Linked DNA regions of Homo sapiens. The protein of the gene in region 2 purifies or fractionates together with the protein of the main gene of each other region. This does not show direct contact. Each region holds a gene or a part of one and is shown on either strand. Other genes may lie near its edges.

The links.
Region 1: the proteins of MYB (region 2) and UBE2B purify together in Homo sapiens (co-immunoprecipitation; one large-scale study listed by IntAct). This does not show direct contact.
Region 3: the proteins of MYB (region 2) and BASP1 purify together in Homo sapiens (co-immunoprecipitation; one large-scale study listed by IntAct). This does not show direct contact.
Region 4: the proteins of MYB (region 2) and NDUFAF4 purify together in Homo sapiens (co-immunoprecipitation; one large-scale study listed by IntAct). This does not show direct contact.
Region 5: the proteins of MYB (region 2) and MAN1A2 purify together in Homo sapiens (co-immunoprecipitation; one large-scale study listed by IntAct). This does not show direct contact.
Region 6: the proteins of MYB (region 2) and CLPTM1L purify together in Homo sapiens (co-immunoprecipitation; one large-scale study listed by IntAct). This does not show direct contact.
Region 7: the proteins of MYB (region 2) and PDCD6 purify together in Homo sapiens (co-immunoprecipitation; one large-scale study listed by IntAct). This does not show direct contact.

What each region holds. Positions count from the first base shown.
Region 1 is NC_000005.10:134,381,515-134,385,607, reverse strand, and holds part of UBE2B (ubiquitin-conjugating enzyme E2 B), read right to left. Parts: intron 1-4,093. UniProt on the Homo sapiens protein: E2 ubiquitin-conjugating enzyme that accepts ubiquitin from the ubiquitin-activating enzyme E1 and transfers it to a E3 ubiquitin-protein ligase. In vitro catalyzes 'Lys-11'-, as well as 'Lys-48'- and 'Lys-63'-linked polyubiquitination.
Region 2 is NC_000006.12:135,190,993-135,195,085, reverse strand, and holds part of MYB (transcriptional activator Myb), read right to left. Parts: intron 2,763-4,093; coding exon 2,528-2,762; intron 1,249-2,527; coding exon 1,168-1,248; intron 731-1,167; coding exon 626-730; intron 127-625; exon of another isoform or gene 5-126; intron 1-4. UniProt on the Homo sapiens protein: Transcriptional activator; DNA-binding protein that specifically recognize the sequence 5'-YAAC[GT]G-3'. Plays an important role in the control of proliferation and differentiation of hematopoietic progenitor cells.
Region 3 is NC_000005.10:17,269,224-17,273,316, reverse strand, and holds part of BASP1 (brain acid soluble protein 1), read right to left. Parts: intron 1-4,093.
Region 4 is NC_000006.12:96,888,397-96,892,028, forward strand, and holds the end of NDUFAF4 (NADH dehydrogenase [ubiquinone] 1 alpha subcomplex assembly factor 4), read right to left. Parts: intron 2,996-3,632; coding exon 2,708-2,995; 3' UTR 919-2,707; downstream 1-918. UniProt on the Homo sapiens protein: Involved in the assembly of mitochondrial NADH:ubiquinone oxidoreductase complex (complex I). May be involved in cell proliferation and survival of hormone-dependent tumor cells. May be a regulator of breast tumor cell invasion.
Region 5 is NC_000001.11:117,499,737-117,503,829, reverse strand, and holds part of MAN1A2 (mannosyl-oligosaccharide 1,2-alpha-mannosidase IB), read right to left. Parts: intron 976-4,093; coding exon 860-975; intron 1-859. UniProt on the Homo sapiens protein: Involved in the maturation of Asn-linked oligosaccharides. Progressively trim alpha-1,2-linked mannose residues from Man(9)GlcNAc(2) to produce Man(5)GlcNAc(2).
Region 6 is NC_000005.10:1,334,719-1,338,811, forward strand, and holds part of CLPTM1L (lipid scramblase CLPTM1L), read right to left. Parts: intron 3,265-4,093; coding exon 3,186-3,264; intron 457-3,185; coding exon 339-456; intron 1-338. UniProt on the Homo sapiens protein: Scramblase that mediates the translocation of glucosaminylphosphatidylinositol (alpha-D-GlcN-(1-6)-(1,2-diacyl-sn-glycero-3-phospho)-1D-myo-inositol, GlcN-PI) across the endoplasmic reticulum (ER) membrane, from the cytosolic leaflet to the luminal leaflet of the ER membrane, where it participates in the biosynthesis of glycosylphosphatidylinositol (GPI).
Region 7 is NC_000005.10:274,244-278,336, reverse strand, and holds part of PDCD6 (programmed cell death protein 6), read right to left. Parts: intron 2,326-4,093; exon of another isoform or gene 1,397-2,325; intron 1-1,396. UniProt on the Homo sapiens protein: Calcium sensor that plays a key role in processes such as endoplasmic reticulum (ER)-Golgi vesicular transport, endosomal biogenesis or membrane repair.

The DNA.
Region 1 (4,093 bases), on a different chromosome or scaffold from region 2:
GGTTCTTCCCTTTTTAGACTGATTCTGTGAAAATACAAGCAATGAACGTTAAGTATTTGCCCAATTGTGAGACTATCTGTAGAAAAAATTTCTAGAAGTGAACTGCTATGTAAAACAAAGAGTAAATTCATTTAAATGTTACAGATACCATTTCATGGAGCAAACCATAACAGAGAGTGGGGAGCAAATCACACTTAAACACTGTGATTCTTCCAGACTCTATCCTAAGCCCTTTTCCTTCTTACCCTTTACACACACACTGGGCAATCCTATTGACTCCTGTGGCCTCAGTTACCATCCATGTGCTCAGTATTCCCAATCATTGGCCTTAGCCTAGATCTATCTCTCAGCTTCAAAGCCAACTTACTGTCCATCCCACAGAAACATCAAACTTAGCTGCCCAAAGCAAAAATTAGTAACTCTGTAAAACCCATAAAAGTGTAAAACAATTTTAAAGTTCTGAGTAACTATTTCTGAGAATCCAAAAGTAAATCAGAACTCAAATATCTTATCAACTAATGAACAAAATACAGAATATCCATACAGTGGAATATTATTCAACAATAAAAAATGAATCACAGATACTATTATATCACAACATAGATGAGCCTTGAAAACTTTATGCTGGGTGACAGAAGTCAGTCACAAAGGACCACATAGTATAAGATTCCATTTATATGAAATATCCAGAATAGTCAAATCTAGAGGGAAAACACGTTAGGGGTAACACTTACCTAGGACTGAAGCGGGGAGGGTTAAGACAAACAGAGTTGACTGCTAAGATAATAGTTATGGGGCTTTTTGTTGTTTTTAAAGTGGTCATGGTGATGGTTATGATTATGCTAAAAACCATTTGAGTTGTACAATTTAAGTGGGTCAACAGCTTGGTGTGTAAATTATATTTCAATAAATGTTTTTAAAAAAATAAACCAGAAAGTTAAATTATAAAAAAGTACTCAGCAGAATAAAAGGGAAACCATGCTATAAATATGAAGAGATGTGAAAACCAAATACACTGTGGTTTCTTAAAAATTTGCTTAAGTGATAACCCTATATTTATATCCCTTACTCATTCTACAGTCTTTCCCACCTTTATTTAAAGACCCCCTTATCATAATTGGTTTGGTTTGACTCAATAACAAGTCTAAGCAAGATAAAGCTACAGTGGAATAAATGGTAAATGACCTGGGAACTTCCCCAAAAAGAGAAACAGAAAATAAAATTAAACCTGTCTTGGACAAAAAAAAAAGCAAAAAAGGCAGCTAGAAGGAAAAAGCAACTTCACAGAAATGAAGTGCCAAAGGTAGTATCTATTACTGGAAAGTCACCTTGATTCCAGACACAAACGAAACACATCTCTCCTCTGGGTAGGGAGCTCTATAATGTATTCTGCAGTACTAGAGACACGACCAAGAGGACCTCTGAAAATGTTCTTCCTGAAAGTGAGTTGGCTGATGGGGAACGCCACATTTAAATGAGCAAAGGCTGTGAGACTGAAGAGGAGCTTCAAGAATTTGGAGAAGTCTTTCACATGGTAATTTATAATACAGAAATATAAATGTAATAGATGTAAACAGCAAGATGTCAAGGAAGACCAAATTTATTACAAAGGAATTAGCCATCGTTTAGTGAAGAATAGTAACAAACTACTCTATGAAGTGAAAATGAGAACAATTCCACTGAAGGAAAAAAATGGAAAATGACATTAAAAGCTTTAAAAACACACAAGCCTCTGACCCAGTAATCCCCACGTTTAAAAAACTTAGTCTAGTTGTTATGCAGCAATTAAAAAAACAAACAAAAAACTCAATCAAAATAATAATTAGTATCTGAAAAGATTTATTTTGAGGCCGGGCACGGTGGCTCACACCTGTAATCCCAACATTTGGGAGGCCAAGGCAGGCGGATCACCTGAGGTCAGGAGTTCAAAACCAGCCTGGCCAACATGGTGAAACCCCGTCTCTACTAAAAATATAAAAATTAGCTGGATATACAGCTTTGGGAGGCTGAGGCAAGAGAATCACTTGAACCCAACAGGCAGAGGTTGCCGTGAGCCGAGATCATGCCACTGCACTCCAGCCTGGCCGATAGAGCAAGACTCTGTCTCAAAAAAAAAAAAAAAAAAAAAAAAAAAGCTGGGTATGGTGGCACACATCTGCAGTCCCAGCTACTCAGGAGGCTGAGGCAAGAGAATCACTTGAACCCGGGAGGTAATGGTTGCGATGAGTCGAGATCACACGACTGTACTCCAGCCTGTGTGACACAGCAAGTGTTTTTCTCAACAACAAAAAAATTTTTAAGATTTTTAAGAATGTTCAAAGTGCTATTTAAAATTGTAAACAACTGAAAACTATCAACAATTGGACACTGGTTAAAAATATGATAAATCTATGTAACAGAACATTTTGCCATTAAAAATGATGTATCAGAATATTTATTTTTTTGAGATGGAGTCTTGCTCTGTTGCCAGGCTGGAGTGCAGTGGCGCGATCTTGGCTCACTGAAACCTCCGCCTCCCGGGTTCAAGCAATTCTCCCGCCTCAGCCTCCCGAGTAGCTGGGACCACAGGCATGCGCCACCATGCCCAGCTAATTTTTGTATTTTTGGTAGAGATGAGGTTTCACCACGTTGACCAGGATGGTCTTGATCTCTTGACCTCATGATCCACCTGCCTTGGCCTCCCAAAGTGCTAGGATTACAGGCGTGAGCCACTGCACTCAGCCCAGAATATTTATTAAGGAAAATGTTCACAGTATATTAAAAAAACAAAAACAAACAAACCAAAAAAAACACCTTATTTTATATATAACATCCCAATTTTCTTTTTTTTTTTTGAGATAGGGTCTTGCTTTGTCACCCAGGATGGAGAGCGGTGGCACAATCATGGCTTGCTACAGCCTCAACCTCCCAGGCTCCAGCAATTCTCCCACCTCGGCCTCCCTAGTAGCTGGGAATACAGGTACGCACCACTGTGCCCAGCTAATTTTTGTATTTTTTGTAGAGACAGGGTTTCACCATGTTGCCTAAGCTGGTCTTGAACTCCTGGGCTCAAGCAATCCACCCTCCTCAGCCTTCCAAAGTGCTGGAATTAATAGGCATGAACCACTGTGTGTGGTCATTGACTCCAACTTTGTATATGCAAAATTGTACTTTTGAGATAGAATCTTGCTCTGTTGCCCAGGCTAGAGTGCAGTGGCACAGTCATGGCTCACTGCAGCCTTGACCTCCTGGGCTCAAGTGATCCTCTCACCTCAGCCTCCATAAGTAGCTGAGACTACAGGTGTGCGCCACCATGCCTTGATATTTTTTTTGTTTTTTATAGGGATGGGACCTCGCTATGTTGCCCAGGCTGGTCTCTGACTCCTGGTCTCAAGCAACCTTCCCACCTTGGCCTCCCAAGGTGCTGGGATTATAGGTATGAACCACCACGCCTGGCCAAAATTGTATTTTTGAAAAGCTTAATTTTAGCCAACAGATTTTTCTTATTTTTCACAATTCCACAAATAAATAGATAATACTTTTATCTATTTCTTTTAGTAGAGACAGGATCTTACTATGTTACCTAGGCTGGCCTCAAGCCACCCTCCTGCCTTAGCCTCTGGAGTAGCTGGGACTACAGGTGTGCACCACTGTGCCTGGCTTACATATTACCTTTGTTTTTTTGGAGACAGAGTCTTGGTTTGTCACCCAGGCTGAAGTGCAGTGTTGTGAGCTCAGCTCACTGCAACCTCCGTCTCCCAGGTTCAAGTGATTCTCCTGTCTCAGCCTCCTGAGTAGCTGAGATTACAGGTGCCCACCATCATGCCTGACTAATTTTTGTATTTTTAGTAGTGATGGGGTTTCACCATGTTGGCCGGGCTGGTCTCAAACTCCTGACCTCAGGTGATCCGCCCACCTTGGCCTCCCAAAGTGCTGAGTTTATAGGTATGAGCCACCATGCCCGACCATGTATTACTTTTAATTCAGGAGTTATTAAAACAACTTGACCTCAAATTTGGAAGCTTTGTAAGAGTCTAGCTACAGAAACATAGCTAAAGGCTGGAAAAAATGGCCCATTCCTGTAATCACAGTGCTTTGGGAGGTCAAAGTGGGA
Region 2 (4,093 bases):
CTACTGGGCATCACTTCTCTTTTATTGTCTTTGTTGGTTAACTATGTATGTTGCAAAGCACAAGGAGCCATCCCAGTTGGCTGCCCAGTCGCTAAAGATGTCAGAATTCAGTAATGGCCCACATAACTTTCACACATGCAAATAAAAGAGAGCAGCTAATGTTATTTATGAAGAGGTTTTATATATAACCTTTTACATGTATATACTGAACATGCATCAAATCATGTCTGAAATTATAAAATATGAAAATATAGGTTAACAAAATAATAGAAAAAAACCAAAATGGTACCATATAGATACATAGCTCTGTAGAAAATGCAGATTTTCATTCATTTTATCTTTGCTAGTCTTTAAACTGATTATAGTCCTTCTGAAGAAAAAAATTGATGATAACAATCATAAGTGGATATTGCATTTTTATTGCAATTACAAAAAGACTGCTTCCAATTTAATCAGCATATAATCTGATACCAACTACATTTTACTACAAGCAACTTCTTGTGTTGAGACATTCTGAATGGATATATGGAGCCTTGCTAAGTGTAATATTTAGAAGAGAAGAGCGCTTAGGTAAACTGAGGCAAAGCTGCTATCCCCTCATTCAAGCACATGATGACAGTCTTACTGGTAGCACCTGCTGTCCTTTTAGCTCATTCTCGGTTGACATTAGGAGCAATTCTAATTCCTTTATTCGCTTTTCCTTCTCAGGGTCTTCATCATTATAGTGTCTCTGAAATTACAAAGTAAGGGAAATAAAGACAAAGGTCTGATTGGAAGCTGCAAATACAATGGGTGTAGCCAATATGGTCATGAGGTGCCGCACAGCCCAAAGAGCCTCACTGTGACAACACCACCAACCAAATTTGGCTCCTGCAGAAATCTTTGTGAATGTTATTTCAGACTTAAGGGAGTGATGTGAAATCTCAGGCTAGAGTGGATGCTGACTGATGAGTTATTTCACCTTGCAACATCAAAGAATCAGAAAATTCCAGAGCAAACTCATTCTAGAAGACAAGATTAATAGATTGCTGGCCAAGACTCTGCTCTCCTCTCCATGTTCCCTTTCCTTTTTACTTTAGTTGCTCAGGTAAAAATATGTGTTTAGATGAAAGAAATAAGCATTTCTTAAAAGTGGTGCTTTGAACAGTGAATGATCAATGATCTTACCTGAATGGCTGCGGCAGCTGGCTGAGGGACATTGACTATATTTACATGTAACGCTACAGGGTATGGAACATGACTGGAGACCTAGATGCAAAAGACAAAACAAAGGCCACGTCATTCAGGGCTACATATGCTTCAGGGGACTTGGCTTCCTGAGGTTTCGTTCTGGGACTGAGAGAAAAAAAACACTTTACTGATAAAATACACTAAACAAATTTTTAAAACCTTTTAATGTGAAATTTAGCCAGGCCTTTAAAATGGCTAAACAGCTAAAGGAACATGGTGAAAAATCCTTGGGAGGTGTTGATGAGCACTTTAAATTTTGGGAAGTGTTCCTTAATTAGAGAAAAACACAATGAAAAAAACAATAAAAAATATATTATAAAATACATTAATGAATGTTTCAAAATTGTTTCTATGGGAAAAATTGATGGCACCAGCTGTTTGTAAATAAAAATATTTTTCTTGGAATAATTTTGAGTTTTAATAAAAAGCACAGGAATTCTTATGATAATTTATTCATCTGAGACCTTTCTGTAAAGTTTGTAGTCAAATCCATGGACAGAGAAGAATAAAAACTATTTATGAACATGTTTTGCATATAATTTGCATATGAGCTCTCTATTCTTGGGTAAGTTTTATCATTTAATATTGTTATTCTTAAGATTAAAGTTTCTCGATTTTTTTCCTCTTTCTTCTTCTTTTTCCACCTATTATGGATTATCACTTTCCCTAAATATAAATATCTAGAAATAAGGAAGGGATCACACTGATCCAACGGAGACTAAAAGGAGACATCAGAAAATGAATGTCACAAAGTTCTGCTCCTGACTCAGAGTAAGAAGGTAAACACTTACTGAGTGAATAAATTAAGACATGTCTGCCTGATCACTGCCAGAATGAAACATACCATAACCACTGAATTTCAGTGTCAAACTCTCTCCTCTTTAAACATAATACTACCTTCCCTTTTCGTTTTGGAAGAGAAAAACATTACATCTACAAATGCGACTCCATTCCCCTATTCTTCAATAGTACCTTAAGTAAATTTACATTCAAAGGTTGCCTTCAAATTAGATTTGAAGCAGCAATTTAGAATCGGACAGCTCGTTTTCTAGTCAGCACTATCTCTATGAGCTGTGTCACCCTGGGCAAAGCGCTTACCATCCTCGTTTCTGGAGACATAAACCAGGGGTAACACACCATACCTACACCCTATCTACTTCAAAGGGCATAGGTGAAGACTGGCCATGATCATGCTCAGGAAAGTTCTCTGAAAAGTATACAACTGCAAAGTATGATTATTACCTGGAGCTAAACTAACCGTCTCTCTCATTAAACTAGATTCACAGGAATGGCTTACATTTTGTGCTTCAGAAATGTGGTAATAGGAATAGTCGTTGTTAACAGTGGGCTGGCCAGTGGCAGGGAGTTGAGCTGTAGGCGGAGCCTGAGCAAAACCCATCAAATGACTGTTCTTCTGGAAGCTTGTGGCCACTGCTGGCTGGCTGGCTTTTGAAGACTCCTGCAGATAACCTTCCTGTTCGACCTTCCGACGCATTGTAGAATTCCAGTGGTTCTTGATAGCATTATCAGTTCTGCACAGAAATATATCACACAAATTTCACAAACAAAAATTTCAATTCAGATTAAAGTGAATTGACAGAAAACTGTTTCTAACAGAGACCTTTCCCTTGGGCCTATTAGTTGTTTTCTCTTTTTAATTGTTTCCTTCTTCTCCACCCTCTGAGATCAGGCTTTCTCTATTGCCTAGTTAGATTTCTCTTAGTTACACAATCTGGAATGCATGTCGTTTTCTAGAAATATCAGTATCTTTTAACCATTCCATTTCCTTGGTAAAGGAGTATTTTCAATACGATAACGCTTCATGTTTATTCTGACCGGTCGCGGTACAAGACTCCAACACAATGTAAAGTTCCAGCTGCCTTGGGGAAATTACTCCTTTGAATGTGGCACAGCAGGGCCTACACACCACGAGAGGGACATGGTGAAGTCTGGTGGATGATAAGATGCTGCTGATGAAGAATACTTCACTCTTTATCTCTCAAAGCACTAGTGAGAACTTCTGAGACCAAAAAACCTCCTACTCTTTGAAAGCCACCCCAATTGTTTTCTGAATCAGACAGAGACGAGAGTGGAAAATGGGATCCCAAAGGGAAAGATCCTAACCCCCAGTATATTTTCAAAAGGCAACGCATTTTTACTAAAGTCTTTCCATTCTCAGGAAAACAGTTTCTCAATTCAAAAAAACCGTTTAAGTCTCCCTTTTTCTATTTCAATGGGGGTGGGGGAATGTATGCTAAAGAAAGAGGAAGTTCAATAGCCCTGTTAATTTTGAGAAGAATCAGCAGTGTATCCTCTCAGGCCATATGGGAGGAAAGGCCTTTTTTTACCAACCTCTTAAAATTTCTAAGTTTATACTGAACCACAAGGGTGCAAATGCTTTGGAGCATCACTAGAGAATACTATATAAACTTTCTCCTGGATTATGAAGCTCAAGAATAAAACTATTTTTAATATTTTTGATCTACATCATTTTAATGCAAGATTTATCATTAAAAGTATTGCTTTCCAAAGGAACAAAATCTGTTATATACTACTTAAGTGGGAAAAATGGGACAAAATGAGCTTCCATAGTTATCCCTCATAATGAGGTCATTTTCTTGCCTTGTTCATTAAAAAGAAAGCATTATTACCCTGACATTATTTAAAAACCTGGAAGTAGTATGAGAATTCAAGAAATACATTATTTCTTTAATCAATGAAGTAAAAAATTAAGCAAAGTGGTATAATGAAATGAATACTGGTGGCCAGGTATGGTGGCCCATGCCTATAATCCCAGCACTTTGGGAGGTGAAAGGATTGTTTGAGGCCAGGAGTTTGATACCAGCCTGGGTAACATAGCAGG
Region 3 (4,093 bases), on a different chromosome or scaffold from region 2:
TAGAAACAAACATACATGGCAAAAAATACAATTAAATATACTTTCATCCTATAAGCAATCACAGAGCAGTACATGAAAATATAAAGAAATAAACCGGATCAATATTTTAAATTATAGTTTATAACTCTTCCATTGAATTCTTAACTAGTCAGTATGCACGAATGGCCTATACCAAATATAATTTCAGCTCTGATATTTCAAAATACATTGGGTCCCTTAGGTTGAGCTAAATAAGAAACAGGAAACCTAACAGGTCTGCCTTTAGGATCTTCTCTCAATCCAGTAATAGAAACCCATACACCAACTTAGAAATTACAGACACTAAGATAAAGTGCAAACATAGGGGGTCCAGTAAGTATAACATGGGGTGCTGCTTTCTGACACCCACAGCATGAAATTCTATACAGCAATCCCCAGAGGTTTAAAGTCATGTTGGGTTACAAACCTAAAATCTGAGTTACTAAAACTGGCTTTTCTGACACATAGTTAAGGCCACATTCTATTCTTTGTTTTATGCCCAGCTGCGATTTGTTTCTGGGTCGAAAATGAACACACGTAATCAAGTTATAAGTAAGAAAATATGTCTCAATCCAGTTTGTTTTTCAAACAAAGTTAACAAACGCCCCTGGCATTTTGCTAATTTACCTCTACTGGTTATATTGAGGTATCAGAGGGACGCTCATAGGACCCACCTGAACCCTCGAAAAGCAGGATTGTCTCATTATTTCCCAAGACCATATGCGTGAAGACCTTGCCTACAACATCTATTAACTGTTTCCTAGGTATCAAGCACAATCCTACTCATAAATATATTACATAAAATATGTAATCTCAACAGCACCATGGGGTAGTATGCCATTCACATTCTCCTTTTACCCATAAGGAAATCCTACTAGCTGAGTTCGTGGAGCTGTACTATGAGCAAAGGCCAAGTCCAGCAAAATTCAGTAAGGCAGGAAGGCACCACAGAGGGGATAGAAGGAACTCCACTGAGAAGCCGGCAATGGGGCAAAGCTCTCAGCCCAGGAATGTTATGCGCCTGGGTTACAAGGATGGTGCCACCTGGGGTAGTTCAGAACTCAGGTGTTGAGGGAATAAGGAAGAAATTCAGTATTTTGAGTATCCTCTGCCTCTCAACATTTCATCTTCCTATTTGCCAGAGAAGCTTTTTACCAAGAGAAAGCAATGAGCATACAGTTTAATGATTTCATTCTTTTTCTTTTCTTTCTTTTTTTTTTTTTTTTTCTTGAAATGCAGTCTCAGTCTGTCACCTAGGCTGGAGTGCAGCAGCAGCACAATCTCGGCTCACTGCAACCTCCGCCTCCCAGGTTCAAGCAATTCTCCTGCCCAGCCTCCCGAGTAGCTGAGATTACAGGAGCCTGCCACCATGCCCAGCTAATTTTAGTATTTTTAGCACAGATGAGGTTTCACCATGTTGGCCAGGCTGGTCTTGAACTCCTGACCTCAGGTGATCTGCCCACTTCGGCCTCCCGAAATGCTGGGATTACAGGCGTGAGCCACCATGCCCAGCCGATTTCATTCATTTCTGTTACTTCTAATTTTGAAAGACATCATTTGGTATAGAAAGTTAGAAGTTGGAACTTCTAAGATTAAAATAAAGCAGTTAAAAAAATACAGCAATAGACAATCCATGCTGAAAAGTCACTTCAACTAAAAAAGTCACTAAACCAAAGCTCTACTGAAAAGGCCGAGACTGACTTTGCATTTCTCCACAACTAGGAAATTCACTAGAATTTTGTAGCACAGCAACAAAATTCAGACCAATGCTGAAGGCACTGACCTCAGTTCTATGTGTTTATGTATTAACCAAACACTAAAACTGACCTCTGTTATGACATCTCAGAAAAAAGCTAATTCTGGAGCTGTCCTTTAAAGACCGGGTGTGGTGGCTCACACCTGTAATCCCAGCACTTTGGGAGGCCGAGGTGGGTGGATCACTTGAGGTCAGGAGTTCAAGATCAACCTGGCCAACATGGCAAAACCCCGTCTCTACAAAAATTACAAAAATTAGCCAGGCGTGGTGGTGCACACCTATCATCCCAGCTACTGGGGAGGCTTGAGCCTGGGAGGCAGAGGTTGCAGTGAGCCGAGATCAGCCACTGCACTATGGCCTGGGCAGAGTGAGACCCTGCCTCAAAACAAAACAAAGCAAAACAAAAAACAAAAAGCAAACAAAAAAGCTGTCCTTCAAAGAAAACTCGATGCCACAAGGGCGAAAATGACAGGCTTACCGATTAATATTGGCATAGAAAATAACCATAAACAGTAGTAGAGAGAGGAATTTCACTGAGTTTAATCTGGTAAATATTGGACAAGAATTGAATTTCAAGGAGACTTTGCACATTGGGTCATGGCAGAGTATAAAAATCCCACCTCCACAGCACACCCACCCAGAATCCTTGGGCAAGTTATTTAATCTCATCGTCCTTCCGTTTCCTTTAAAATAAAAAAATTTTTTTAAATGTCAATTTAATGGGAATTTAATGTGAGGCCATGTGAGTACAACATTTTACATTTCCAGGGACTGCAAAAATGTTAGTTCCTTCCCCCATCATTTAGTTTGAAAATTCTTAGATAATTCTTTGCTGGTAAATTCCAACAGAATAGTTAGCACACAGGTTCCACACACACAAGTTCTAGAATCAGGAATCTGAAGCACCACAATGAAAAGAACATTTAACATCTTTTAAAAATGTTTAATGTTATCAGAAAGATGTTTGGTATATGTGTTCCATGCATGCTCCTGCTGGTTCTATTTGAAAAAGAAGTTTTTACAGTTATCTGTTGTCACCATATTGTAAAGGTAAAATCTCTACTTCTTCGCTCTGAATATTTTACTACTTAAGATTCTAAGAGGTTTTCAGTCTTTTTAAATATATTAACAGTCCATTCTGCCAAGAAATCAGTTTCTACACAGAGATAAAAACCAAAGATTAGTTAAATCCATTCCTCCCAATTAGAACGAGTATTGGAGTGATCAGAGAAAGAGAAGAGGGGGCTGTGTGTGGTGGCTCACACCTGTAATCCTAGCACTTTGGGAGGCCGAGGCGGGCAGATCATCTGAGGTCAAGAGTTGAAGACCAGCCTGACCAACATGGAGAAACCCCGTCTCTACTAAAAATACAAAATTAGCCAGATGTGGTGGTGCATGCCTGTAATCCCAGCTACTCAGGAGGCTGAGGCAGGAGAATCGCTTGAACCTGGGAAGTGGAGGTTGCGGTGAGCCGAGATCGCACAATTGCACTCCACCCTGGGCAACAAGAGCAAAACTCTTGTCTCAAAAAATAAAAATAAAGAGAAGAAATGTAATTGCATTTTTTGCTGTCCCCTCACCACCTCTTCATCACTTGGTCCAAGGAAACAAGAGAAAAGTGTTTTGATCACCAAGATGGAAAAGGAATCCCAATTCTTTTACTCATTTAATGCCTCAAATTTCACGTGTAAAGGGTAAAAACCTGGTCTACAGCTTATCTTGGCTAATAAGCTAAACACACCATGTTAATGAGAGAAGCTAACATTGTCAAATGTCATTTTGTTTTGCTACTTCCTGCAGAAGAATACTGTTTGTTTATCATATGTCAAATAGCTTAATAGAGATACTAACTTACATCTTTAAAATCCCCCACAACTATCTTGTGACTAGTTTTATTCCCTTCCACCTTATAAAACCAAGCCTCCATCCAATTAATCCCACCTGGCTAGAAACAGCTATTCTGGAAGAAATGTGATAAAGTTCTGCTTTTCGGTGAAGAGAGAAGAGAGTGTGCCATTCGAGCACTGTGAGTTGATCAGAGCAACCTGGGCTGGAAAGCAGGCAAATCAGAGGGAGGCCTGAAAAGGTCAGAGGGAGGGTTGGAAGTGATTATTCATCACACCAGCCTGGTCCTTTTTTGCCTACACCTGCCAGGAAACTCAAAAAGTGTTTGCATCCGTGGAATACATACCCATCACCTTCTGAGTCTCACTTCCTACAACTGATGTTAGCTTAGACTACACACTCAGTCCTGACACAAATCTTTCTTTCGTTTATTGGCAGCAAATCATGTTCCCTAATAAATAAACGTGTACATTT
Region 4 (3,632 bases), about 38 Mb from region 2:
AAACAATTATATGGTCATCCTATTTATTTATGGTAGAATTTTCCCAAATCCACCCACTTTGCTGTAGAAGGCTTCTCCCTTCTTGAGAGCTTTTCCTCTATCAGCTCCCTGGATCCTGGCTTTCCTGTCCAGTCTATTAATCTCCTTCCTTCCTCTCCTCACCCTATCCCCAAATCTTTGAATCTCCTGAAATTCTTTCCTTCTCCCTTCCATCATCTGGAAAGCTTCCTTTCTTCAAACTCCTTCAAGGCCACCCTTCTGTCTATTCTCTGATCCTTACCTTCTTTCACAATAAACTTTAGACCAGAGAATGCTATTTCACCTGCACAAGTGATCAGCAATTTGGAACATGCTGGTGGCACTGGTCATAGATATTTTTTAAACACCCGTGATCCAGAATCCATGAACCCAGGCGTCTCCCAGACTTACACCAGCCTCTCACAGCAGACATCTGTATTTTCCCAGAATTCTACAGATGATTCTCATATACGGTGAGCATTGAGTAGTCCTGTCCTCATATGCCTCAGGCACTTTGCATGACATCTCATTAATTCTCATAATCTTACAAAGGCAACATAGCGTATCAGTTAGAAGCACAAGGTTCTGAAAATAACCTAACAGGACTAAATCCAGGCTTCAACACTTACTAAGTAATCTTTGAAGTTACTGAAGCTCTCTATGCTTCTAAAATATGGCTACTTATCCTTGTACCTATGGTAAATATTAAGCAAGTTAATACACGTAAAGCACTTCAATCAGACCCTAGTACAGTAATTACTTTTAAAATGTTAGATGGCATGGCTAGTGGTGATCCTGAGATCTAAACTGTTTTCTGAATCTAAATTCCATGCACTTTCTGACATCACTGCTACCAAGTGCTCTCCTGTATATAATAAAACGCAGTATAGGACTGATGAATGGTATGGGAAGAAGTTCTTTATTTTATCATGTGACACCACATAACAGATGCCTAACCACACAATGTAGATATGAATAAAGAAGATGGCTCAGAAGAGTGTACTAGTATTTGTGACTCAGCTAGTGACCATTATGATAAAAAGAATAAAGTTTTGACTTATTTACAGTTTTAAAATGCATTTTATATTGAGTAGTTATTTCATGTTTTCTTAAAACAATTATTGTATTGAACTAAAAATAAACTAGGTAGTTTGTTCACATAACAAATCTACATTCAAAGTCATGCTTACAAATTTTCCACTTAGTCCATTTTTCTGTTCTCAGCATTACTACAAATGCCTCATTCCGTCATCACATTGAATTCTTCAACATCCTCTATATCATTTCCAGGGGCATCTCTGGGAAGTAGTGATGCCTATCTTCCCTCGGAAGCACTAATAACCCTAATATACCCACAATTCACACCTTTTCCCTTCTTTGAGGTGTGCTGCTTTTTGGCAAGACAGAAAAAACACACTACTAGGATTTGAAAAACTAAATTCTGGGCCTGTTTAAGTCATAAACTACAGAATCTTCGGTCATATATTCTCCCCAGGCACTTGTTTCTCCACCGCAAAAAATAATTCCTATTTGCTTGGTCCTTTGTAGTCCTTTATTATTTATCTTCATGATAACCCTTACATTTAGGGTAGCATTATGCTTATTTTATAGAAGAAACTCAATCTCCAAGAAGATATAGTCTCCCAAAGATCCCCCAAGTAGTAATATATTAGGCAGAGCTAAACTCACACACTCACTCAAGATCCTAGTACTGGTACATGCTATGCTAATTAAATTTGCTAAAATGGATGAAATGGCAATTTCTCAGGTCCCTTCCAATGATCCTGTTCTCTGCTTCTACTTGCTATCTTTTTCTCTTCTCTCAACTAGCATTAACATCCGAAACTATATGTAATCACCAAATTTCATCTACCATGGTTTTTTAATTATTCTTTAAATTTTTCTCTATTTCCACATTAAATCCAGAGAAATGTTACTTTTTTGAAAGTTTCTGCTTCCTGCCTCTCTGAAGGCCATGGGACTTAACTATTTGTCAAAGCAGAAATTCCCATGGGACTTACCTATCTGTCAAAGCAGAAATTCCCAACATTTTGTAAACACCACTAATTACTTTTTATAACTGTAAAGACAATTATTCCATACTTAAAACCAATTCAAAATAAAATAAATCCTCAATACTTCTTATTCCCTGGAGTAGTAATTTTAATTAGATTCTATTGATTCATTTTCTCCTGTGTGCCTTTATTTGGGAACTACTGTTAGTCTACCCTGCTATCGAGTCTCTTTCCCTAACGAGAAAATGTCAGTCTTAAGGGTCAGGAAAGCTTTTACTTTCACTATCGCATGAGAAGAATGAACTAAACACCTAACTTGGAAAGTAAAACTCAGTTGAGGGATTCAGGACATTTCCCAAGGGGTAATATGACCAATTTAAAAGTTGGTATATGTGCCTAAAATAACAAATTAACTCTTTCACCATAATAAAGGTACAGATGTGCTCAGTCATGCTGACATGCACTTATGAAATATGCCTAAACCAAATTAAAATAAAACAAAAGATATTCTATGGCAATCTTGAAAAGTCAGGGAGCTCAATAAATATTAAGAGTATGCCCTCACAATGAGAGCATTAAATATTTGGTAATTAACATAATTTATTACGCAAAAAATGAGAAAATATACAGCAGGAGGGATGAGGAGTACACATAGGAAATTTCTGTGATTTTCTTCATTTTGATCGTATTGCTTTCTTGTCTTCAGGAGGGAAGATTTCGACTTCAAAAGTAACAAAATATTTAAGAAGAGAATTCACATCTTTCTGTTCTAACTGGTATTCCTGCATTATTTTCTCAGCAGTCCAGGTTTCTGGGAAAAGCTTATGATTATTGAGAAGTGTCAATGCTTCTACAATGGAAATTTTGCCTTTGGGAATGCTCTTAATATTTATCATATCAAAATGATGGTCTTTCGGCAATCTGAATTCCTTCGGCTCTTGACATGTTTCAGCAGCTTTTACCTAGTATCAAAAAAAAAAGGTTTTAGGATGAGAGAAAAGATTTGACATCTACTTTCATACTTCTCAAATCTACACTATTCCTCTTCAAATAACAACTAATATGGTTTGGATCTGTGTCCCCACCCAAATCTCATGTCACCAAATTGTAGTCCCCAAAGTTGGACGTAGGGCATGGTGGAAAGTGACTAGATCATGGGAGTGGATTTCCCTCTTTGGTGCTATTCTCGTGATAGAGTTCTCACCAGATATGGTTGTTTAAAAGTGTGTAGCACCTCCCCCACACCCCGCTTCTGCTTGCTCTGGCAATATAAGCCGTGCCTGCTTCCCATTCCACCATGATTATAAGTTTCCTGAGGCCTCCCCAGAAGCAGAAGCTGCTATCCTTCCTGTATGGCCTGCAGAATCGTGAGCCAATTAAACATCTTTTCTTTATAAACTACCCAGTCTCATGTATTTCTTTACATCAGTGCAAGAATGGATTAACACAAATTCTATATACGATTTTCCAAACTTCATTTTCTTATTATAATGAGCCATAGTTTAATAGTACTTTTGCCACATTGCCTTTTCATAACTATAGCTCTATCATTAAGAAATGTAGGCATCTCTAGAAAATAATAATCAAATGTATACCATC
Region 5 (4,093 bases), on a different chromosome or scaffold from region 2:
TAATTGTAATATATGAGAATGTAAACTACAAGTATACTAGAATGTAAAATCCAGAAGGCAGGAATTTTTGTCCTGCTTGCCTACTGAAACATCCTCAAGTGGCTTGAACAGTGCCTGGTAATACACATTTGTTGAAAAAATAAAATGTTTACAAGGCTTTCATGTACAGATATGCAAGAAATACAAATAATAAATTTAAGAGCGAGTATGAAGAGATATTTATTTGGTCAGTCTTTAGGGAAGTGGACATATTTACAATCTCCATCTCTTCCAGGTCTGTTTACAGAGACCTCTACCTGGGGTTTGGAGTATAAGACGAAAATAAAGTTGTCTACTCTTTTCCATTGTTCCTTTTATGTGTATCTTTACAGTAAGGCTCATCGGGTGGATGAGTGGCTATGGTCATTTAGTACTATCAAAACTGCATGATCATTCCTAACAGATTTCATTAGCTACAGTAGGGAGCTCAGGTATGAGTCCAGGACCAGCATTATCAGTAACACATGGGAGCTTGTTAGAAATGCAAATTTTTAAGCTAAACTCCAGATCTACTGAAACTTCGTGAGTGTGGACCTAGTTACCTGTGTATTACGAAGCCTTCCAGGTGATTTTAATGCACATTAAAGAGCAAAGAACAAAAAATTTTAACAGGTACTAAGTACTTTTTTGATAAAATACCTACCTTATAGTCTAAGTCATTCTTTTTGAGATGTAGCTAAAAATTTACACACCCAATTACATAAAAAGATATTTACAACAAAATTTAGTGTAACCTGTCACATAGTTGTAATTCATCATCTAGTGATCACACAGCAAAACCAGTCTAGTATAAAAATATTTTTTAAAGCTATATACTTACTTTAATGTTTCAGCAAGAAAAAAGCTCTGCTGTACATCATCATGTGTAGGAGTAGAGGAATATACATCTTTGACTCCAGAAAACCCACCATTAACTCGGCAATACTTTTCAATGGCCTATGAAAGAGATCAGACAAAATAAGCAATTCCGTAGAATTTCAAGTTTTGAAGGACAACAAAACTTTGAAGGACAATAGTCAAAAGCTCATAAAGATTTGTATGAAAATTTGATGGCTTAAGAATAATATATTATCAAAAGGAAATATTCTCATACTGGAAAAATTAACTCATACGAGAAACAGGATGTTTCCTATAGAACTTCTCTGTCTCCAAAACTCTTTAATCTTTTTAAGACATCTTATATTTTCCTAACTTAGAAATCAAATTTAGGCTATTTTTTCTAAATGAGGGGTCTGTCTGGCAAAATAAAGGTCCATTAGTTCTAACAAATCAAGATGGAGGTCAGTTTCAATTAACAATTTTTAATGCAATTTTATCACTTCCAAGGACAAACAATAACCCACAACATGCTAAAAAATATTACTTAGGAGCACTCTATAGTAATAGCGGTAAGAGATAATATTTACTAAATACATACCATATGCCAGACATTGCATTATCATAATCCTATGAGTTAGCCATTACAGGTGGTACCAACTGGCAGAAAGAGCCCACCTACTACAATAATAATTACAATATAAAGAGTTAACAATTATAAGGTATTTACTATGTGCTGAATGCTGTTCTAAGAGCTTTAAATACAGTCACATTTGAATTTCAGAACTCTATGAGGTTAACAGCCTCACTTTTCAGATGGGAAAACTGAGGCACAGAGTAATTTGCTCTACATTATTAACTACTGTGCTTTACTGCTTGACTGAGAGTTAAAATTCTTACTCTTTTTGCATCTTTGGGCATGCCTAAATAAAATATACTGAATCAAATGGAATCTATTCACAACCTTATTTTTTAATTCAAAGCAACCAAACAGTCTGCTTATGCAGGTACAGCACAGTCCAGAATTCAACCAATCATGAAAAGTGGAAAGCACATGTGGTAGTTTTGTTTTTCTATTCTACCTAACCCTGCAAGGTCATCCAATGAAGGCATGGTTACTTAACTAACCATCGCTGTCTGCCATGGCTTGTTGTTCCTAGTCTTGCTACTTTTCTTACTCTTCTGGGCTTCTCCTTCCTATGAAAAGCTAATTAACATTAAAAAGGTGTTTATTTAATCAATCTGCTCATTTTATAGCTCCATTTTGATTATAACTAAATTTAAGGGGTTTGGTGCTTTTCTCTAATATATTCTAAAGAAATTTTGGATACAAGAGTTTTTAAGTACTTTTCTTCACAATAATCATGTGTCTTCACCACCACATGAACTATCAAAATGGTTTAAGAATAATAAGAAAGTAGTGGGGAGGCATGACTAATCTTTAAGACATTTAAAGTCATGAGGGCAAGTTTGGAAGTTTGAATATGTAAACAGAATAGCTAAGGCTACAGAAGACACGCTATACTGCTATTCTGCCTCACCCAGCCTTCCCTTTGCTTTCTTCGCACCCAAGAGGAGAGGCCAATGGTGATGCATGAGCAAATACTATTTAAGATATGACACCGCCTCTTTTGCCTCCATTCCTCCCTCTTCTCATCACTTCCACTGCACACTTCTGAAACTTGAATTTAGAGTATAACTACTCTAGTTCTTGTTCTTGACCGATTATACATTGAGTTTGTGTTTGTGCATATAGGCTACAAAAGCAAAATTCTACCTCCTATAATTCAAATTTAGACAGACATGGGCTAAAGTTTGACCCTGTCACACCTCTCCTTAACAGACAAAAGTAGGGCCATACTTGAAGAAAGCACACAGGAAAAAAGGACATTAGGAAAAGGATGAATTATCCTAAAGTATTCCTCAATGACAAAAAGTGCTTCTGCCACCACTTTCCACTCCTCACGTGATTCAGACATATCCCCCTCATTCCTGTAAATAAGGAGCATTAAATATCAGGGGACATTCAAGTGAAACAGATTCATTATATGATTATTTTACCTATTTCCCTTACATGAAAGAGTGCTTAATTTACGGAAGCATTAGTAAGCCACTGCTAACAATAGAAGTGTGTGTGTATTCTATTCCCAAACCACTGTGGCAATAGTTTGGCTGTCTTCTCAACTGTGGCAGCACCCTCCTACACAGAGAATTTCACTAGTAGCTGTGCTCCCAATTCTGGAGCCAAGGGGCCAAGGAAAAGCAGCATCAATAAATGCTGCATCTGTTCCTGTCCTGTGTAACCACTTGTTTCCATTAATATGCTCTTATTGTTAAAGTCCAGCAGGACTATCTAGGTCTGAATGACAGGTGAAAAATAAGTGTACTCCCCTTAGTTCAAGATCTCACATTATTCCTAGGTTATGGCTGTGGTCTCCCAAACCCACCAATTTGTGGATTACAATCAGATCCTTTTGCTTTGTTACTCCCCACTGAAAAAAGCCTTCAGGAGTTCCTTCCCCCTTATAAAACATTTAGCAGTTCTGTAAGGAATTCTCAAAAGTCAAGGAGCTTTTGCAGGTAGAAGATGCTAAGGAAAAAAGAAAAGTAAGATCTGAAGGGCTTTTTGGATAAGCAAAGAACTTTCTGTTACCATTTCCCATATGACAGCACTTAACGCAGTAGCTGACAGAAGTAACTAAGAGAGTGTGTATTACGGGGAGGGAGTTGTGCACACGTCTTATTTCCTGAACAACTAAGAACCTTTGATTTGGTGTGTAAGGCTGTCTACATAATGGCTCCAATCTTCTCTCCCACTTTGCCACTGTGAAACGTTCGCTTTACATAAACTGGTATACATCTTGCCTTAAAATATATCTCATACATTCCTGTCTGGGCAATTTACCAGCACTACTGACCTCATTTGGGATGTCCTTAGTCATTCTATCTAGATTGTAAGCTTAAGTTAAACAATTTGAATACGAATAGTCACCATAATTAGTGCTATTTATCACAATTAGTAAATCTCAAAGAATAAAACAACCCCTTACCCTGGGAATAAGCTATACTTTCATAAAAGACTAATAGTTTTTTCCTCCCTAGGTACTGATAGCTATGGATTCCCTGAAAGACTTTAAGAGTAAACCACTTGCTTCCTTTACTTAACTAACCATTAAAAATTCCTCCTTTGAAATATATATATTTATATATTTTTAATATATTTTAATATATATTTAAT
Region 6 (4,093 bases), on a different chromosome or scaffold from region 2:
ACTCCAGCCTGGGCAACAGAGCGAGACTCTGTCTCAAAACAAACAAACAAACAAACAAACAAACAATAAAAATAAATCTCATCAACAGTTAAGGTTCATTTGACCAAACTCATGGCATTTCACATATTATGTTCTTAATAAAGCCAATTTCCAGACAATCAACCAGGTCATCTCCAAGGAGAGAAGTGAGGCAGGCGCTGCTAGCCTCTGATTCAACGTCTGTGCAAGGATCTGCAGCAGGAGGCGAGGAGGCCCCGGCCTGTGTCAGGATTCGCACTTGGATGCCCGAGGGGCTCCAGGGCGGCCTCACCCAGGCGCCGGCCGTGTGCGGCACATACCGAACTGCTGCAGGGAGTACACGGCGTCCTGCATGTGGATCCAGAAGCGCAGCCGCCCCAGTGAGACCTTGTCGTAGGACACGGTGAGGGGCAGCTCGGTGGTGGAGCGGTTTATGACCTGATGAAGAAAGCCACACTGAGGGCCCTGCCCTCATACCCTTGCACCCAGCTGCCTGGCAGCCCTCGCCAACCCTGCCATCCCCCTTCCCATCCCTGTGTGGCCCCAGGTCAGCCATGACTGGGCCCAGCAAGCATCCCCCGGTCCCTCCTTCTGTCACCACAGGCCTCAGGCCCCAGCGTGCTGCGTTCCAGCACAGGGAGGTTCCCACCCCCACCAGGACCCCGTGAGCTCAGCAGCGCTAGCAGTGCCTGGTCTGTTTTGCTGCACGTGCCCCTTCAATTTTAAGCCGCACAAGTCCTGGTGCCCCGGAGGTGGTGCTTGCCACCCAGCTGCTAGGACTCCATGGCGCAGCATACGGCGCTGAGCTTGGCCTGCAGAGCCCTGGCCTGTCCTAAGAGTTGGAGACCACGGGACAAGCACAGCCCTGCAGCACATGGGCAAAGTGCCTCAGGGCCTAAAGCACAGAGCAGGGGGTGGCCGTGGGGACAACAGAAAGCTTCTGGAACGCAAAGCTAGCAGGGGCAGTAGGGTGGATGTGTAGGTCTCAGAACCACGAGCTTAGTCCTGCAGCCTGCCGGGGCCTCACGCACACAGGCTGTGGGCCAGGTCCCAGGGTGCCGAGGTAGGAGGGTGAGGAACGGGTTCACAAGCGCGAGCCCACACCCTACAGCACGTGGGCAGTGACCACACCCGGTGAGCACCACCCTCCACGTTCTGGAACATCCAGCGAGGGCTGTGCTCTAATCCACCTGCCCTGCCTCAAGCCCTGACCCGCCACCCTCCACGTGCTGGAACATCCAGCGAGGGCTGTGCTCTAATCCACCTGCTCTGCTATGGCGGGCACTGCTGGTGTCAGGGTGTGGTGGAATCAGAGCCACAACCAGCAGGTGCCAGGTTGCCCTGAGAGCGGCTGTCAGGGCGCCCCACGTAGCCAAGTGGCATCAGTGCACATGGATGGTGGCCTCCAGGCACCCCTCGAGCTGCCAAGCGTGTCCGAAGGGTGTCACTGCCTCCTCCATCTGGCAGTGCTGGGCCCAGCCACAGAAGGTGCCGACTTCCTGCACCTGCTGCATCCCAGCTGCCTGCTTCCTCTCTCAAGACAGCACCTCTCGAATCTGGCCCCAAGTGAGACACAGCAACAGCGACACATGAGAGAGACTGTGATTTGGGGGAAAAGCTGCTGTCGGCACACGTGTCTCCATAACCACTGGAACGCAGGCCACCACTGGCACAGCTGCGCCGCAAAGCCTGCCCCGGGCCTCTAACAAGACAGATCTGCAGACAGACACACAGGGCAGCCTTCTGCAGCTGCCTGCCCCTGTCCACCATCTCCTGAATGCCTGCAAGGAGTCAGCGGCATGAGGCTTCACAAGAGGTGACCACGAGCTGGTGCCACAGCTCACACAGCTCTGTATGGGGCATTTTAGCAGAACTTGCTGTCCTGAGGTTTGTCAGCAGCACACCAGCAAACTCCAGCAAACAGAGAAAGAGGTTGGAATTGCAGGGGCCGACAGAGAAACTACTCAGGGATAGGCTGCAGCGCCAGACCTGCTCGCCAGCCACTGCCTGTGCAGCCCCCAGCCTGCAGGTTGTATAGGAGCAATCAGTGACCCCAGAAGTGAAGGAGGCAGTATGTTAGGGACTGCAAGGGGTCTGAGGGAACAGCAGTACAGGGGGACTGTTCTGAGAGCCGCAGTCAGGAGGAGGCAGCAGGGCCTGGGCAGAGATCAAAGCAGCCAGGTGCTCGCTTCTCCGTTTCCCAGCTGCACCCCCCCGCTAGCAAGCCCTCTGCTCTCCCCAGGACTGTTTCCTCTTCAACAAAAAAGGGGAAAGGGCCCGCCTCAGAGGTCAGAGGTGCCGAGAGCCTTAAGTGGAAGTGGCCGGCTCCTAGTGGGTGATCCGGAGTGACAGTGATGGCTTGCAGGGAGGCAGGGCAGGGCAGCGATCCTGCAGGGCCCCAGCTGAGCGTTCACCTCTGAACCCCAAATAACCTCATCCGTGAAACAACGCCACAGCTCCCAGCACCACAATTACGGAAAGATTCACAAAGTGCTTAGCACAGTGCCTCATGTGCAGTAAGAGACATTAAATATTAACTGCTTCTGTGAGTCTCAATACTGGCCAAAGGTTGGCCACATTTCATCTCCTCTCAAAGCAACTATGGGAGAGCAGGCGCTGTCACTGCCCGTAATCACAGGGCGCCAGAGCCCAGAGAGCAGCCACTTCTATTCGCAAAGGCCTTCCGCCTTGCCAGGGGCCACCCCGGGGGCTCCAGCTCCGAGGAAGGGCTGTCACCCGCTCCTCTGGCCGCCTGTGCAGGACCAGCCCTGGTGGGGAAAGCAGGAGTTTGCTCAGGATACTGTGAATTAATCTACATGGCACACCAGGAGCTCACACGCAGACGCTGTTTCACACGGTGCTCATGTGCCTGCTCTCTAAGCGCTGCCCTCTATGCGCTGCATAAACAATCTTCCAGGGGCCTTTCACCAGTGACAGTCCAGAGGCTCAGCAGGACCCCGCAGCCAGCCAACGGCAAACCCAGCACACCACCAGGGCCCCCCTGTCACAACCCTCGCACACTCGAAGGCAGTGCTTCCCAGCACGGGTAAAAGCACCGTGTCAAATGTCAGCAATGGCCCGGTCCATTAGGGTGCAGGGGCTGCGGGGCCAGTCTTGGGGTCAGTGTCTCGCCAGCTGCACAACCAGCGGGCAGAGGTGTCACTCACCATCAGGTCCTTCACGCGGTTGCTGAGCTGGTCGATGAACAGGATGGGCAGGTAATGCACGGTTTTCCCCAGCTGGATCCTGGGATTAAAGCACAACTTTCCAAAGTCAGCACCAAGGCTTTTACCTTTCAATGAATGAACACATCCAGACACTGGGTTTACCCCAGAGAAGTGCCCCCAGCACCACCCTCAACTGCTTCTCAGTCACAATGACCCCAGGGCACAGCCTCCCCAAACGGAAGCAGAGAGCCTGACAACATATGCACGCTTGTGAGACCCGCTCCCCAGGAAGTGATGGCCACAGGTGGGAAAATGCCTCCACGGCCACTAGGAGCGGGGGAATTACAGGGACACGGCCGTACAGCAGAACCCAGGGCCCTCTGCGCACTGACACGGAGCAATCCCAGGATGCACTGACACGGAGCAATCCCAGGATGTGGCCACTACACTTGGAAGGGCGAGTCACCTGCAGCCACCTGGGAGGCGGAGCTGTGGCGCAGGAGTTGGGGGGGGGATCCCCAACACATGGGAGAGACGAGGTGAGCTCAGGTGGCCAAACACGTGAATTCCAATAATTGTATTTAACTGATGGCAAGTGATACTAAATAATCTAAAGATTAACTTTTAAGTAAATCTAAATAAGCCAAGTTAAAAAATCACAAGGGGAGCAAAGCAACCCGTTCCCATCAGCGCCTTCCGTTTTCTCTCCATGGAAGCCTTCGCCAGCCAGGAGCAAAGGGCAGGATGCTCCAGCTTGAATTCCTTTCTCCCCCCTTCCAGCCCTGTGGTAGCAGCACAACCTCAATGAGGAAGTGGGAAAGAGCTGGGAGGCCCGGGCAGCAAGTGCCTCCCCACAGAGGGGACTCCACGGTGCAGGAGTGACCTGCTGGCGAGTTCTGGCCAGCCAG
Region 7 (4,093 bases), on a different chromosome or scaffold from region 2:
GTGGGCAGGTATTTTTGTTGATCTCATTTATCACCCTATCCCCAGTGCCTGGACAGGGTCTGGCACATGAATGGTGTGTTCTAAATAAATATTTTTAATAGATAAATAAATGAAATATCCTACAAGAGAAAGCTATATCTGGAACTCACCCACCAACAGAACCTAAAAGCCAAAGACCTTTAGCCTGTCTCTGCCTCTGAACACACCCAACCCCGGAGGAGCCAGCAGAGGAAAAAGAGGACAAAGGTGGGGAAGGGAGCAGGTGGTGCCCACCAAGTAAGGAACCCTGAGGCTTAGGCGGAACCTGAGCTGGAGAAGGGACTCATCTAGGAACTGGGTATGAGATTAAAGTTTAGATTTGTCTGGCCTGGATTTTGTTAACACCTAAACAAGGGTTATTCTATTCTTTTTTTTTTTTTTTTTTGAGATGGAGTCTCACTGCCCCCCAGGCTGGAGTGCAGTGGCGCTATCTCAGCTCACTGCAACCTCTGCCTCCCAGGTTCAAGTGATTCTCACGCCTCAGCCTCCCGAGTAGCTGGGATTATAGGCGCGCACCACCATTCCCGGCTAATTTTGTATTTTTAGTAGAGATAGGGTTTCACCATGTTGGCCCCCTGGCTCACGCCCGTAATCCCAGCACTTTGGGAGGCTGAGGTGGGCAGATCAAGAGGTCAGGAGATCAAGACCATCCTAGCTAACATGGTGAAACCCTGTCTGTACTAAAAATACAAAAAATTGCTGGGCGTGGTGGCTCACGCCTGTAATCCCAGCACTTTGGGAGGCTGAGGCGGGTGGATCATGAGGTCATAAGATCGAGACCATCCTGGCTGACACGGTGAAACCCCGTCTCTACTAAAAAGACAAAAAATTAGCCAGGCATGGTGGCGGGTGCCTGTAGTCCCAGCTACTCGGGAGGCTGAGGCAGGAGAATGGCATGAACCCAGGAGGCGGAGCTTGCAGTGAGCCAAGATAGTGCCACCGCACTCCAGCCTAGGCGACAGAGACTCTGCCTCAAAAAAAAAAAAAAAAAAAAAATACAAAAAATTAGCTGGGCGTGGTGGTGGGCACCTGTAGTCCCAGCTACTCAGGAGGCTGAGGCAGGAGAATCGCTTGAACCCCAGATGCGGAGGTTGTAGTGAGCCAAGAGCGTGCCACTGCACTCCAGCCTGGGCGATAGAGCAAGCCTCTGTCTCAAAAACACACATAAAAAAACCTTCAAACGAATGTAAGAATTATTATTTTTTAAAGTACAGCTTTAAAAATGCCCCTTACAAATACATCAGTGTTATATTAAGGCAAACCTACTTCAGAAGCACAAAGTTAATTTCTTATAATTCCAAGAAATATGTGAATGTTAAAAAAACCCCAAACACCCGAAAAGGGATCAAACTCAAGATAGTTTGGAACATTTTATTGCAAAAAGAAGGGCAGAGAACAGTCTTCTTCTTCATACCTGTTCACCACAGACCTCCCTGAGAGCAGTAATTTTTAGCAGCTCTCCTGTGCAAACAAGTCTCATGAAGGAATCAGTGTATGGGCCACAAATACCTTCTCAGTGTGGTTTCACCTAGAATACAAGCACTCAGAAGCACAAATTTAACTGAAGTGAGAAACCAGGCCATTTTGTAGCTTCAGTTTTTCTACCAGTAATATATTAATTTCTTGAAATAGCCTAATAATTTAGTTCTACTATCAAAACAGAAGCCCAATCTGGGAGCACAATTATTATAGAAATCAAACTAATTTCAATCATATTAGTATAGGAATTCATATTAGTATAGGCTGAGGCAGGAGGATCACTTGAGCCTAGGAGTTTGAGACCAGCCTGAGCAAGACAGTGAGACTCCATCTCTAATTTTTTTCTTAAAATAAAGAAATTCAGAGAGAAGAAGGAAGAGGATATGTGTTTATCCAAGGACAAATTTTGTGTGCCTGTACATACAACACAACTATGAACCTTCCTTCACGCAGCTCACAACCTAGTAGTGAGAGGGAACTATGAAAACGTGAGCCCCCACGATGAGGAAAAAGGTGCATATCAGAGAAAAGAAAAATGCTGCGATGATCCAATGGCAGGAGCAGCGCGCATCCACTTTCTTTGTTTTTTTGAGATGGGGTTTCGCTCTGTCTCCCAGGCTGGAGTGCCGTGGCTTGATCTCAGCTCAATGCAGCCTCAACCTCCCAGGCTCAAGTGATCTTCCCATCTCAGCCTCCCAAGTAGCTGGGAATACAGGCGTGCACCACTACACTCATTTACTTTTTGTAGAAACAGGGTCTCACAATGTTGCCAAGGCTGGCATCCTGAAGGGCGGGTGGGGCTTCATCCTACAGAGATGAAAGGCAGAAGAAGCTTAGAGCCCAAAGCAAAGGGGTGGAGGACAAGGGCATCTTCAGAACAGAGTGGCTCGGCTGAGACATCCAGTAGGATGCCACCAGGCAGAGGTGTGGTGGAAAAACACAGGGCCACGGTGAATGCTCACATGTGAGGAGCAAACCACCACAGAACACAACAGAAACACGGTGTACTAAATCAGGCTTCAAATCGCAGCCCTGCAACTTGAGAGCTACCACAGGTAACCCGGAAAGGGAGCACCGACAGCAATGCCCACTGCCTGAGGCTGTGAGATGGACCAGAAACCTGTGCTTACTAACAACCTGCCTTATTCCAGAAGGAATTCAGGAAACACAGAGACACTCACGGTACAGCAAAATAAAGTAAATGTGAATCATATTGGTTGAGAAGAAAGTGAAGAGTCTAAGACTATGTCATAAAGTTTACTTCTACTCTAAACTCTCATTACTGGTGAGCCACCAACCTGACTTTAAATTTTCTAGCAGCTAAATTGAAGAGGAAAATGTCATCAGGTAAACGTTTATAAGATGCAAACAAAACAGAACGGCCACCACAGTTTCTGAGAACACGCGCAGCTCCAGGAGAAATGGGGTGGCCATTTCCTGGGGCTGCCCCGCAGCAGGTGTGTGAGCCCGAAAGCCAGCGTCTCTCAGGGTGAACAGTGACTACGGGCTTCATGGGGCCACATGCCCCCAGCACAAGCTGAGGAAATCTCCCAGGGCAATTCAGGCAACAGGGTCTCACAGTGTCGCCCAGGCTGGTCTCAAACTCCTGGGCTCAAGGGATCCCCCTGCCTCGGCCTCCCAAAGTGTTGGGAGGTCAGGCGTGAGCCACTGCACCTGGCCCTGCACTCACATTAGAGAAGAGGGCTTTGCATCCTGAAGGGCGGTGGGGCTTCATCCCACAGAGATGAAAGGCAGAGGAAGCTCAGAGCCCAAGGTAAAGGGGGGCGCCTAAGAAAAGTGACTCCATTGGGACCACGGTGAGAGGGTCCCGATACACAGCTTGGGTTAAGCCACTGATTTCAAAGTATCTCAGGAATGGTGGACTCAGCACCCATCAGGCAATTCTCTCAAGCAGTCTCCTGGTAGATATTTAGTAGCAGCTGAAATCAAGATTATGTTCTGATAGACACTTGCTGATGGTTAAAGAGCTATATACACTTTGAGGACCAGCTGAACTGGGGCAGGACTAACTCCCTCTGGTGAAAATACAGGAACCCAAACACACAAGTCAGAGCAGGAGGTGTCTCCCCCACCCCCAAACAATAATGCTGACCTTGGATTTGGGTTAAGTGCCTAGCCCAGCGTGTGAGTGTTGAGTAAGTGGAAACCATCATCACCATCATCAGGTAATGGAAAACCATCAAAGCTTTGAGCTGGCTTGTTAGCCAAGAATAGTACCAGTGTATTAGCTACTACTAATACTCACAGCTGACAATTACTGAGCACTTGCTCCGTGCCAGGAATCACGGAAACACCTCGCATGCATTTCCTCAATACTCCCTCCCAGTAACGGCGAGGACACAAAACTGGTAGAGCCAGGACTGGAATCCAGGCAGGCCCCAAAGCACTCCAGTGGAGCCTGCCAAGGTGGGCAGGCTACCATACTAATGCGGTCCAGTATTTGACCACCACTCCTATTTGAGCAAGTTTAACAGAAAACCTAAAACTAAACCTAAAATCTAAAAATTAGAGCAAATGCATAAAAAGCAGGCTGTTAAAATGGATCATAAATCTT